2 linked regions of the Homo sapiens genome follow. The protein of the gene in region 2 interacts with the protein of the main gene of each other region in a pairwise test. Each region holds a gene or a part of one and is shown on either strand. Other genes may lie near its edges.

Region 1 (4,717 bases), on a different chromosome or scaffold from region 2:
TTTTAGTATTTCATCATAGGGATGTTACACAAGGGAGCATGTGGCAGATGTCCTAGGATTGCAGCTTTGCCCCCTCATTGTGCCCATGGTGGCTTTGCGGGGTCCGCAGCGGGCCTGCTCTGGGTGCTCTGTGCTTTGCCCCACCCTGCTGCCCTACTAGAGGTTGGCCAGCACCATAATTGTTCATCTCTTGTCCTCATTTCTATTCTTTTTTTTGAGACAGAGTTTCACTCTTGTTGCCCAGGCTGGAGTGCAATGGTGCGATCTCAGCTCACTGCAACCTTGCCTCCCAGGTTCAAGTGATTCTCCTGCCTCAGCCTCCTGAGTAGCTGGGATTACAGGCATGCGCCACCACGCCTGGCTAACATTGTAGTTTTAGTAGAGACGGGATTTCTCCATGTTGTTCAGACTGGTCTCGAACTTCCGACCTCAGATGATTCGCCCACCTCGGCCTCCCAAAGTGCTGGGATTACAGGCATGAGCCACCACGCCTGGCCATCTCATTTCTATTCTTCCTCCAAATATTTTCTGGTACATGGGTGTCTGACCTTGACCCTTAGGACCAGTTGATAGTCCTGGAATCCACTTCCAGAAGGCCTTGGGGCTCTGTTTGCCCCTAATGCAGAAGCTTCTGGTAGAGGCAGCTTTGAGGCCTGGGCTGCCTGGGAGAGGTTGGTGGGCCCCCTGCACACCTGATCCTGAGTGGCGTTTGCACCGTCTTTCCTGCGATTTGCCTCTGCTCACACGTGTAGGGACGGGTCTCTCCTTGAGGCAGCTGCTCTGTGCTGGAACACTGCTCAGGTCGGAGAGTTCTCGTACTGAGCCGAGATGGGCATCTGTGATGTCCTGCCCTGTTGGAGAGGTCTGTTGTCCCCCTCTAAGTGATGACACCATCCACATGTGGACTTTGCCACGTTTGGATGTAAGCGCCTCTGCAGCGCCGACCTTCCGCATGGCTTCTTCACACTCCCTCTCCTGGCCATGCTGGGTACTGGGGACCCCACAGGGAGTGCACCCTCAGGACGCTGGGTTTGGTTCCAGCTCCGACTGGAACTGATTATGTGATCGTCCCTGGCCTGAGCGTAAGACCCACTTAACAAGACCTCAGGGGTTTTAGTCTCAGCTCCTTCCCTGGCCCAATCTGGCTCTTAGCCAGCCCCCCTCCTCCTCTGCCACTGTCCCAGCCACTGACCATGCCCTGGGTGCCCACCCTGTGCAGGGTGGAAGCCTGGCTTTGGGCTCTTGGAGTTCCTGGGCAGGGAAGGCTCCCACTTTCTGCCCTGTGAAGCCCACCTCAGTCCTGGCTGCCCCATTTCCCAAGGGGCTCTCAGGTGCAGTGGCTTCTGCAGCCCCTCTCTTGGGATGCAGGCCTGGGCACGTGCAGCCTTGTCTAGCTCTGCCCCAGTTTGCCCATCCAGCCCTCAAGTTCTTCCTGCCCCTTCAGGCCACTGCTTGAGCTGATGGCAGAGATGGATTCCTCCCTCCCCGTCCTGTCTGGCATCCTCCCTTTGGGACCCTGGGTTCATTCCCTGTTCTGGCCACCTTGTTTGTGGCCCCTCTAGGCCAGCAGGACAGACACACCCAGCGTGCGCCTGGCCTCAGCACCTCACACGCAGCGTGCATGTGTGTGCATCTGTGCTTGGCGTCGGCGTCACGTCTTACAAGGACAAGCAGGCACTGGGGAAGGGTGGGGACACAAAGGAGGAATGGGATGGGGGCTCCGAGGCCTGGGAGCCGCCCTGGGAGGCCTCTGCCCTGGGGACCGTTCAGCAGCTTTGGGCCTCTCTCCAGATCATCAGCCATGACACCCGGCGCTTCCGCTTTGCCCTGCCGTCACCCCAGCACATCCTGGGCCTCCCTGTCGGTGAGTCACGCCCCTGCTGGGCCCATTCGGAGCCCGGCAGGCTGCTGGGGCACTAGATCAGAGAGATGGAAGCTTTACATTTCCACCAGGGAGAGCAGGGAAGCCTTCAGGAGGAGGTGACAGCTGCCCTGGGCCTTTGAGGGCGAGTCTGTTGGAATGAGAGTGGGAAGGCCCAGAGTCCCTGGCAGTGGCACCAGCAGGAGTGAAGGCATGGAGGCAGGAAGCTGGGACGTGAGGGGAATCCCCGGGAGGGGTGGGAGGGGGCCGTGGGAGCTGACGCCAGGCCAGGCTTTGAATGCCGGGTGGGGTGCAGGGGAGTGGGTTGACAAGACCCAGGGGTCACCCGCAGGATGATCTCTGGCCCAGAGTGACCCCGTTCTGTCCTGCAGGCCAGCACATCTACCTCTCGGCTCGAATTGATGGAAACCTGGTCGTCCGGCCCTATACACCCATCTCCAGCGATGATGACAAGGGCTTCGTGGACCTGGTCATCAAGGTGAAGCCTCTGGGTCATGACTGTGGAGGGGGTGTGGGTGGGTGGCCATGGCAACAGCCCATGTGGACCCCCTGGACAGGGAAGTCTCCCGCTCCTGCCCTGTGCAGCCCAGCCTCGGTCATGGCTGCCCCACTTCCTCAGGGGCTTGCAGGGGCAGTGGCTTCTAGAGCCCCTCTCGAGTCCATGTCCCCCCGCAGCCCGGACTCCAAAGACCCAGTGCTCCCTTGTGCCTGGTTTCTGAGTAAATAGCACGTCATCTTTACCAACAAAAGCCAAAGAAGGGGGTCTTGGCAGAGAACAGGGGCCAGGGTTCAGGGCAAGTGCCTTCAAACAAGGACAGGTACCTGCAGCAGAGGCTCCAGGAAGGCCGGCTGGCGGTACAGACGCCCCTGCTGCGAGGTGTGACGGCGCAGTCCCGTCCCTGCTCTCACGCTGGGAGATCCCTGGGAGTTGGGTCCCGAGTGTGCGGGGTGAGGCAGCCACTCCACCGTGGTCAGCGGCCGGGCCTCTGTGACACGCAGGCCCTGTTCTTACCCGTTTCCCTAAGAAATGTCCCTCAGGCCTGCTAGGGAAACATGTGAGGGGCTCGTGTGGTGTTGTCTGGGAGCTGGGGTGATGGGCTTTCTGGGGTCTGCTGCGGGGTTCGAGGTGGAGGTTCACAGGAGAAGATGCAGGCGTTAGGGGCAGCAGCCCGGAACCTGAAACACACATGCCGAGTGGGAAGTAAGAGGCAGCATGACGGCCCCAGCAGGGACGTTTTTATGAAAATTAGAAATACAAGCTTTCAGCCAGGCACAGTGGCTCACACCTGTAAGCCACTTTGGGAGGCCAAGGCGGGTGGATCACCTGAGGTCAGGAGTTAGAGACCAGCCTGGCCGACATGGAGAAACCCCGTCTCTACTAAAAATACAAAAAAATTAGCTGGGCATGGTGGTGCGCACCTGTAATCCCAGCTACTTGGGAGGCTGAGGCAGGAGAATCACTTGAAGCTGGGAGGCAGAGGTTGCAGTAAGCCAAGATCATGCTACTGTACTCCAGCCTGGGCAATAGAATGAGAGCCAGTCAAAAAAAAAGAAATACAAGCTTTCCTGCAGAACAGAGGGTGAGAAGCAGCCTAGACCAGTGGGTATGTGGGGTGTTGGAGACCCTCCCCAATCAAGGCCAAAGCCCTATAGCCTCCCCAGCCCAGCACCCTCAGGTACCCCTGGAGCCCCCTTACTGGGCCGTAGCTGAGGCCCTTACCTTGCCAGGTCTGGGGGCAGGCACTGGATCTGAAGGGTGGGAAGGGCCCTGGCCCGGGCTCCTTCCTTGCTGGGGCGCCCAGGCCTGGCCTCAGGAGCCCGTCTTTGGCTGGAGGACGGACACTGGACACATAGTCATGGGGAAGCCAGTGCTCCCTGCAGGGGACAGGTACCTGCGACCGAGCTTCCAGAAGGGCCACCAGGGATGGGTGGGGTTGGCTGGTGAGAGTGGCTCCCTAGCAGGTGACAGTGAAGGTGAGATCTGGGGCTGAGTAGGCACTGACCAGGTGAAGAAGGAAGAAAAGGAGCTTCAGGTGCAAAGGCCCTGAAGTCAGCAGCAGGCTCAAGGATTGAAGTGGCTGGAGGGTTGGGGCAAGGGGTGGGAGAGGTCAGTGGGGCCAGACGGGGCCTTGGAGGCCCCAGTAAGGTTTGGGGCTTTGTCCAGAAGCACAGAGGAGGTGATGAGGGCTCAAGCATCTGTTCACGTTGAAGTCTCTCTGGCCAAATGTGGAGAAGCTATTAGGAGGATTCAAATTGAGGATGAAAAACTCACAGGTGACCAGGCCTCTCCTGGCTTGGAGACCTGGCTGGCTCCCTTGGTCCTTGATAAAGGTTAGAGTCCTGGCCTGGCACCCAGGGCCCAGGACAGTGTGCTCTGCCTGCCTGTCCGTGGCCCTCCACTCCCCTCTGCCTCCACACCCCATAGCCACCCTCTGTGCTGAAGCCACAACAGGCTCCCCTCCCTGAGGCACTGTGTACACGCTGTCCCTCCCCCAGCCACCTTCCCCTTCTCCATCCATCAGACTCCTTGGGCAGGGTGAGCCGCTCCTCCTCTGTCTCCCCATTTCTTTGTAGGTGTCGGATTGAGGCCCTTCTCTTTCCCAAGACAGTAATCCTAGAGAGTGCAGGGCAGGAAGTAGTCCCAAGAGTGAGGGAGGTTTTTAGCGACAGCACAAAACGGAAGGGACTGAGTGTCCACCAGGAGGAGTGTGGCTTAGTGGGCCTCCCAGAGCCTTGACTTTGCTGACGGGTTCAGTGTCTCCCGTTGGGAGGGGGCCCCAGAGACAGTTGGTGAAATGTGAGTGCATCCAGCCCTGGAGTTGGTCGGCCTTGTAC
Region 2 (5,061 bases):
TATGCCATGGCCAGTAAACCTAAAAATAAATGCAAAGCGGCAAAAACAAAAGAATTAAGCTCTCCCTGATAGCAGCTGCCTGGAGAAGGTTCTGGGCCTCTCCTTGTTAAAAGGGCAACTGACAGGAGCAGAGAAGTGCTGAAGCCATGGTGGCCCCTGTGAACCCCAAAAATCTGAGACAGGTCTCAGTAAATTTAGGAAGTTTATTTTGCCTAAGTTAAGGACATACGCCTGTGACACAGCTTCAGGAGGTCCTGACGACATGCACCCAAGGTGGGTGGAGCACAGCTTGATTTTATACATTTTAGGGAGGCATGAGACATCAATCAACATATGTAAGATGAACATTGGTTTGGTCCGGAAAGGCGGGACAACTCAAAGAGGGCAGGGGGCTACCAGGTCATAGGTATATAAGAGACAAATGGTTGCATTATTTTGAGTCTCTGATGAGCCTTTCCAAAGAAGGCAATCAGATATGCATTCAACTCAGTGAGCAGAGGGATGACTGAATAGAATGGGAGACAGGTTGGCCCTAAGTAGTTCCCAGTTTGACTTTTCTCTTTAGCTTAGTAATTTGGGGGCCCCAAGATTTATTTTCCTATCACACCCCTAAGAGAGACTTTCTCTGGGAGGAATAGACAGAAAGAGAATTAGAAAGGAAGTAACTGTCTCACCATGTGATTCAGCCTGGGCTATGTGAAGGCGGGGCAGCCAGAAGACCCAGGTGGGAAAACAAGGATTTTCAGCCCAAGGTGGACTGAATGGTCCAAGAGGCCAGCCAGGGTAGGGAGCAGATGGGCACATTCTCCACCGACAGAAGAAAAATGCTTCCCAATGGACAAGGGTAGTCTTGACTAGGACTACCTGACTGGACTGGACCTGAAGTGTGTGTGTGTACCTATGTGTACATATGTGTGTTCCTACATGCATGCGTGTGTGTGTGCATGCGTGTGTGTATATGTGTGTGGGATGGGGGTGTTTAGTGATCAGACAAGATTATTTTCAAGTTAGGTGACCTTGGACAAGTCAACTTCTCTAGGTCTCATTTTTCTCTTCTATAAAATGGGGATTAATAAGAATGACCTTTGTAAGGTTGCTTTCTGGGTTAAACAGCATAACCCTGTGACAACTGCGTAGCACACAGTGCCTGGAACCTAGAGGCCATCAATGAATGGGGACACTTGCAGCTCTTTGAGTGACAGCCTAGGGTAGTGTAAAGATTGAAGGGTCCCAGGCATTTACCGACCTGGGTCTGTGTCCTGGCTCCATCACTTCCTGGCTGTGCGATCTTGGGTGAGTGACTTCCTGTCTCTGAGTCTGAATGTTTCCATCTGTATGGTGGGTCAGGTGCTGACCCCTCCCTCTGTCTGGGCTCTATTTCAGGTGCGGACAGGCCTCCTGATGAACCTGATGGGTGTCCTGCTGCTCAGTTTGGCTATGAATACCTGGGCACAGACCATCTTCCAGCTGGGCACCTTCCCGGACTGGGCTGATATGTACTCGGTCAATGTCACAGCATTGCCACCCACCTTGGCCAATGACACATTTCGGACCCTCTGAGTCCCCCTGGAGGACTCCCTTGAGGCTGAACCCTCTCAAAGGGCTGTCACCATCACCTGCTGCTAGGACACTACAAAACAATCAAATAATTCTTTTCTGTAATCCAATATGCAGCAAGCAAGGGTGACCTCCAGTGGCCCACTCAAGTCCATGAGCCATTATCTAGGATACTTTCTCTCTCTTTCATGCAGTTCAAAGCCCAGGTATCTCTCAGATCTGCTGCCTGAGAAATAAGCTCCTTTATCAGTTAGCTGTTTTATCATTAGGATACAAGACAGCCCAGTGTCATCAACAGTGAGCAAATCTGGCATGGTGTTTGTCTCGTACAGTTGGGATAGGAGGCCATTCATTCCCATGGGCACAGCTAACATTATCCCCCAGTGATTACTTTCGATTACACTGAAGAGACCACCTTGTCTTTAAAGATCACTTTCCTGGGCTGCAATGTTCCAACCCAGTTGTTCCAGCTGTTCACAACCAGTGTGTGATTTTGCTTAGTTGGTGCCCATTCTGCACCAGTTGTTTTACCCCTGCCGATAACCAGCAGTCAGAGATTCTTTTTTAATCCTTGGAGACAGGGAAAGGGACAGATAGCTTTCCAAGGACATGAGACTGTGCAAAGCCTCTTTGCTGTTTCTCTGGGCTCCTGAGCATACCAGGGGAAGTTCTAGAAACCGCAGCTGACATCTCGACCCAAGAGATTTAGGATTCTCCTGTTTCATCTGGGTCAGTTTGGCCATAATTCTGGGGTCAGGCCAGGCCTGGGTCCTGCCCTCCCATGGGGTGACTCATGACCCCTCCAGCCAGGACTCTCCTACATGTGGCCCCCATAGGCCTCTGTGGCTGCAAGGCGGTCAGTTGCTGCTTGTCCCAGCAGGTGGCCTTGATCTCTCCATGCCCCACCTTAAGTGGTAAGCATGTTTAATTATCAAAGGCCCCATTTGTCAGGGGTGAGAGAAAAGTCAAAAGATAAATTGGGGCCTTGTAAAAGGCCAGGGTAAAATGTCTCAGGCAAGCAAAAGATTGTCCCCTTCTGCATATGGGTAAAACTGAGACGTCCCCGTGAGCCCGAGGCTGGAAGTGGTGTCTGCCTTCAAGGGTTAATCCCTCTTTGTTCCAAGCAGAAGCATTCTGGCATCCCAGTGAAGAGCTCAGGCCCTCAGGAAGTGTCTGCTGAATGGAATGGCCCAGCATTAGCCCAGTATTGGAAAAGACACCAGCCCAGGGGCCCTGACTCGTCACACTTCCCTTTCCTAAGCCTCTGAGGGTGGAGATTCCCCTAGGAGCGCTTGGCCAGCTGGGAAGGCAGCGCCCAGCTGCACTTGTTGTTGATACAGCATAAGTGAATCATGGGCATTTCCCTGAGAGCAGTGGGAGAGGCCCTCTGAGTTGGAAGTTGAGCTCCACCTCCTTTCCAAGTGAGCACTCAGTGTTGAATCACAGTTACAACCCACTGGGGCTGGTGGGAGATGCGTTGTATGGGACTGGAAGCAAGAGGTTCATTCAAAGAGAAACTCATGGGATTTGTAACCAGATGAATCATGATTTCTAAGACTTCTGATCAAAAATACTGTGAAATAAAGAATGTTAATCAACTTTGGACCTGGAGATGATTTGCCTTTCTGAACATAAGAGAGCTTCAAAGCCCCAAATTCCTGGGCTGGGGATTCCACAGAGTTGACCTCTCTGATTTTCTACTGCTCTTCCCTCCCCTCTCCAGCTACATACTCTGCCTCAGGGCCTTCGCATGTGCTGTTCCCTCTGCCTAGAACACTCTCTCCCAAGTATATGTCTGGTTCCCCGACTCACTTTATTCAAGTCCCTGCTCAGGTGTCACCTTCCCTGAGAGGCTTCCCTGACCTCCTGTCTAAAATGTCACCCTCATTACTCTCCACCCCCTTACTCTGCTATAATTTCTCCTTAATAGGACACTGTATAACTTATTTTCTTATTATCTTCTTCTCCCTCTAGAATATAAATTTATGAAAATACAAATGTTATTTTTTTTACTGCTGTAACTCCAGTTCCTAGAACAATTTCCAGCACATAGCAAGTGTTCAGTAAATATTTGCTGCTTGAATCTGCTCCAGAATTAACAAGAAAGCCATCTCTTCCTCTGATCTGGGGTCTGTTTTGTTCATTACTTTGTTCACTCCTTCTTCCATTTATTCATTCAATAAACATTTATTGGGAACCTGTCATGTTCTGGTTCATTGTCCCGCCCACATGGAACTTACAAGCTGGCAGGGGAGACAGGCAATAGAAACATAAACAAGTCATGTGTCATGATGCCGGCTAAGAAGAAAATGACCAAGATGTTAAACTGACTCAGAGGCTACTTTAGCCAGGGTGGACGGAGAGGACTTCTCTGAGCAGGTGGCACTAGATTGAGACCTGAAGGAGTCAGCCAGATGCTCATGGCAATGTGGGAGGAAGGGAGAAGGTGGGAGCGATGGGGAGTCTCTGGGGAGAACATTCCAGGCAAGGGGACTGCAAGTGCAGAGTTTCAGATGAGCAGATTGCTTCACTTAGTTGGGTGCTCTGAGCTGGAACTTTGTGGCATTTGGAAATCTAGAGTCTGCCTCTTCTGGCTGGTTACCAGGTGTCTCTGCAGCTTTCCTGAGAAGGCATTCTAGCTTGCTCTGACCGGATGTTACTCAGTCCTTGAAGCCTGAAGGGCTTTGCCATTCTTAGTGAAAAAGATCTGCAGGCAGAAGGCGGCAGCACCATTACGGTACGCTCATGGCAGCATAGGAACAAGGAGATGGCAGGGCTGGTACAGAGTCATTGGAATACACCAAGGGCTCATGTCCAGAAGATATGAGAAGCACCCCAACTCAGAAAAGACAAGACAAACAAAACCAAACCAAACCTTGTTTTTGTTACCTGTGGCCACATAACAAGCCATCCTCAAACTTAGAACTTTGAAACAGCAATTTCTCGGCTCACGTTTCTGCATTTGGACAGAGCTCTGCAGGGATGGCATTGTCTCTGCCCCGTGAGCTGGGAGTTTTGCTAGGGCTGGAAGGTCTGCAATGGCCGCTGACACTTCAGGGTCTCTCTTCACGTAGCTTCTCCAGGAGTCTATCCTTGACCTCTTTACATGATAGTGGCCTTCAAGAGCAACAAAAACCGAAGCTAAAAGGCCTCTAAGGGCAGGATGTGGAAGTCTAAGAACGTCAATTCTGCCAAATTCTATTGGTCAAAGTAGCCCACAGGACTGGCCTGGTTCAAGGGGAAGGAAATAGACTCCAGCCCTTGATGGTAGGGGCGGCATCCACCAGGGACAGTGGGCTGCCGTGTTTGGAAGCCATTTACCATAGCCCCCAAGAAAAAAGTGGACAAAAGGTACGAAATGTCATCCTGAAAAGAGATATCTACATGGCCAACAGGATTATGAAGAGATACCCAAACCTATGTGTTTATAATTTGCAGGGAAATGCAAATTAAAATAAATTCAACAACATGCCAATCAGACTGGGAAAAATAAGAAAAGTGGAC

What was found.
Region 1: the proteins of SLC13A3 (region 2) and CYB5R3 interact in binary tests that used the Homo sapiens proteins (3 or more experiments, as listed by UniProt).

What each region holds. Positions count from the first base shown.
Region 1 is NC_000022.11:42,628,525-42,633,241, reverse strand, and holds part of CYB5R3 (NADH-cytochrome b5 reductase 3), read left to right. Parts: intron 1-1,791; coding exon 1,792-1,864; intron 1,865-2,253; coding exon 2,254-2,360; intron 2,361-4,717. UniProt on the Homo sapiens protein: Catalyzes the reduction of two molecules of cytochrome b5 using NADH as the electron donor.
Region 2 is NC_000020.11:46,556,521-46,561,581, reverse strand, and holds the end of SLC13A3 (Na(+)/dicarboxylate cotransporter 3), read left to right. Parts: intron 1-1,383; coding exon 1,384-1,560; 3' UTR 1,561-3,754; downstream 3,755-5,061. UniProt on the Homo sapiens protein: High-affinity sodium-dicarboxylate cotransporter that accepts a range of substrates with 4-6 carbon atoms, such as the citric acid cycle intermediates succinate and alpha-ketoglutarate (2-oxoglutarate), as well as other compounds including N-acetyl-L-aspartate.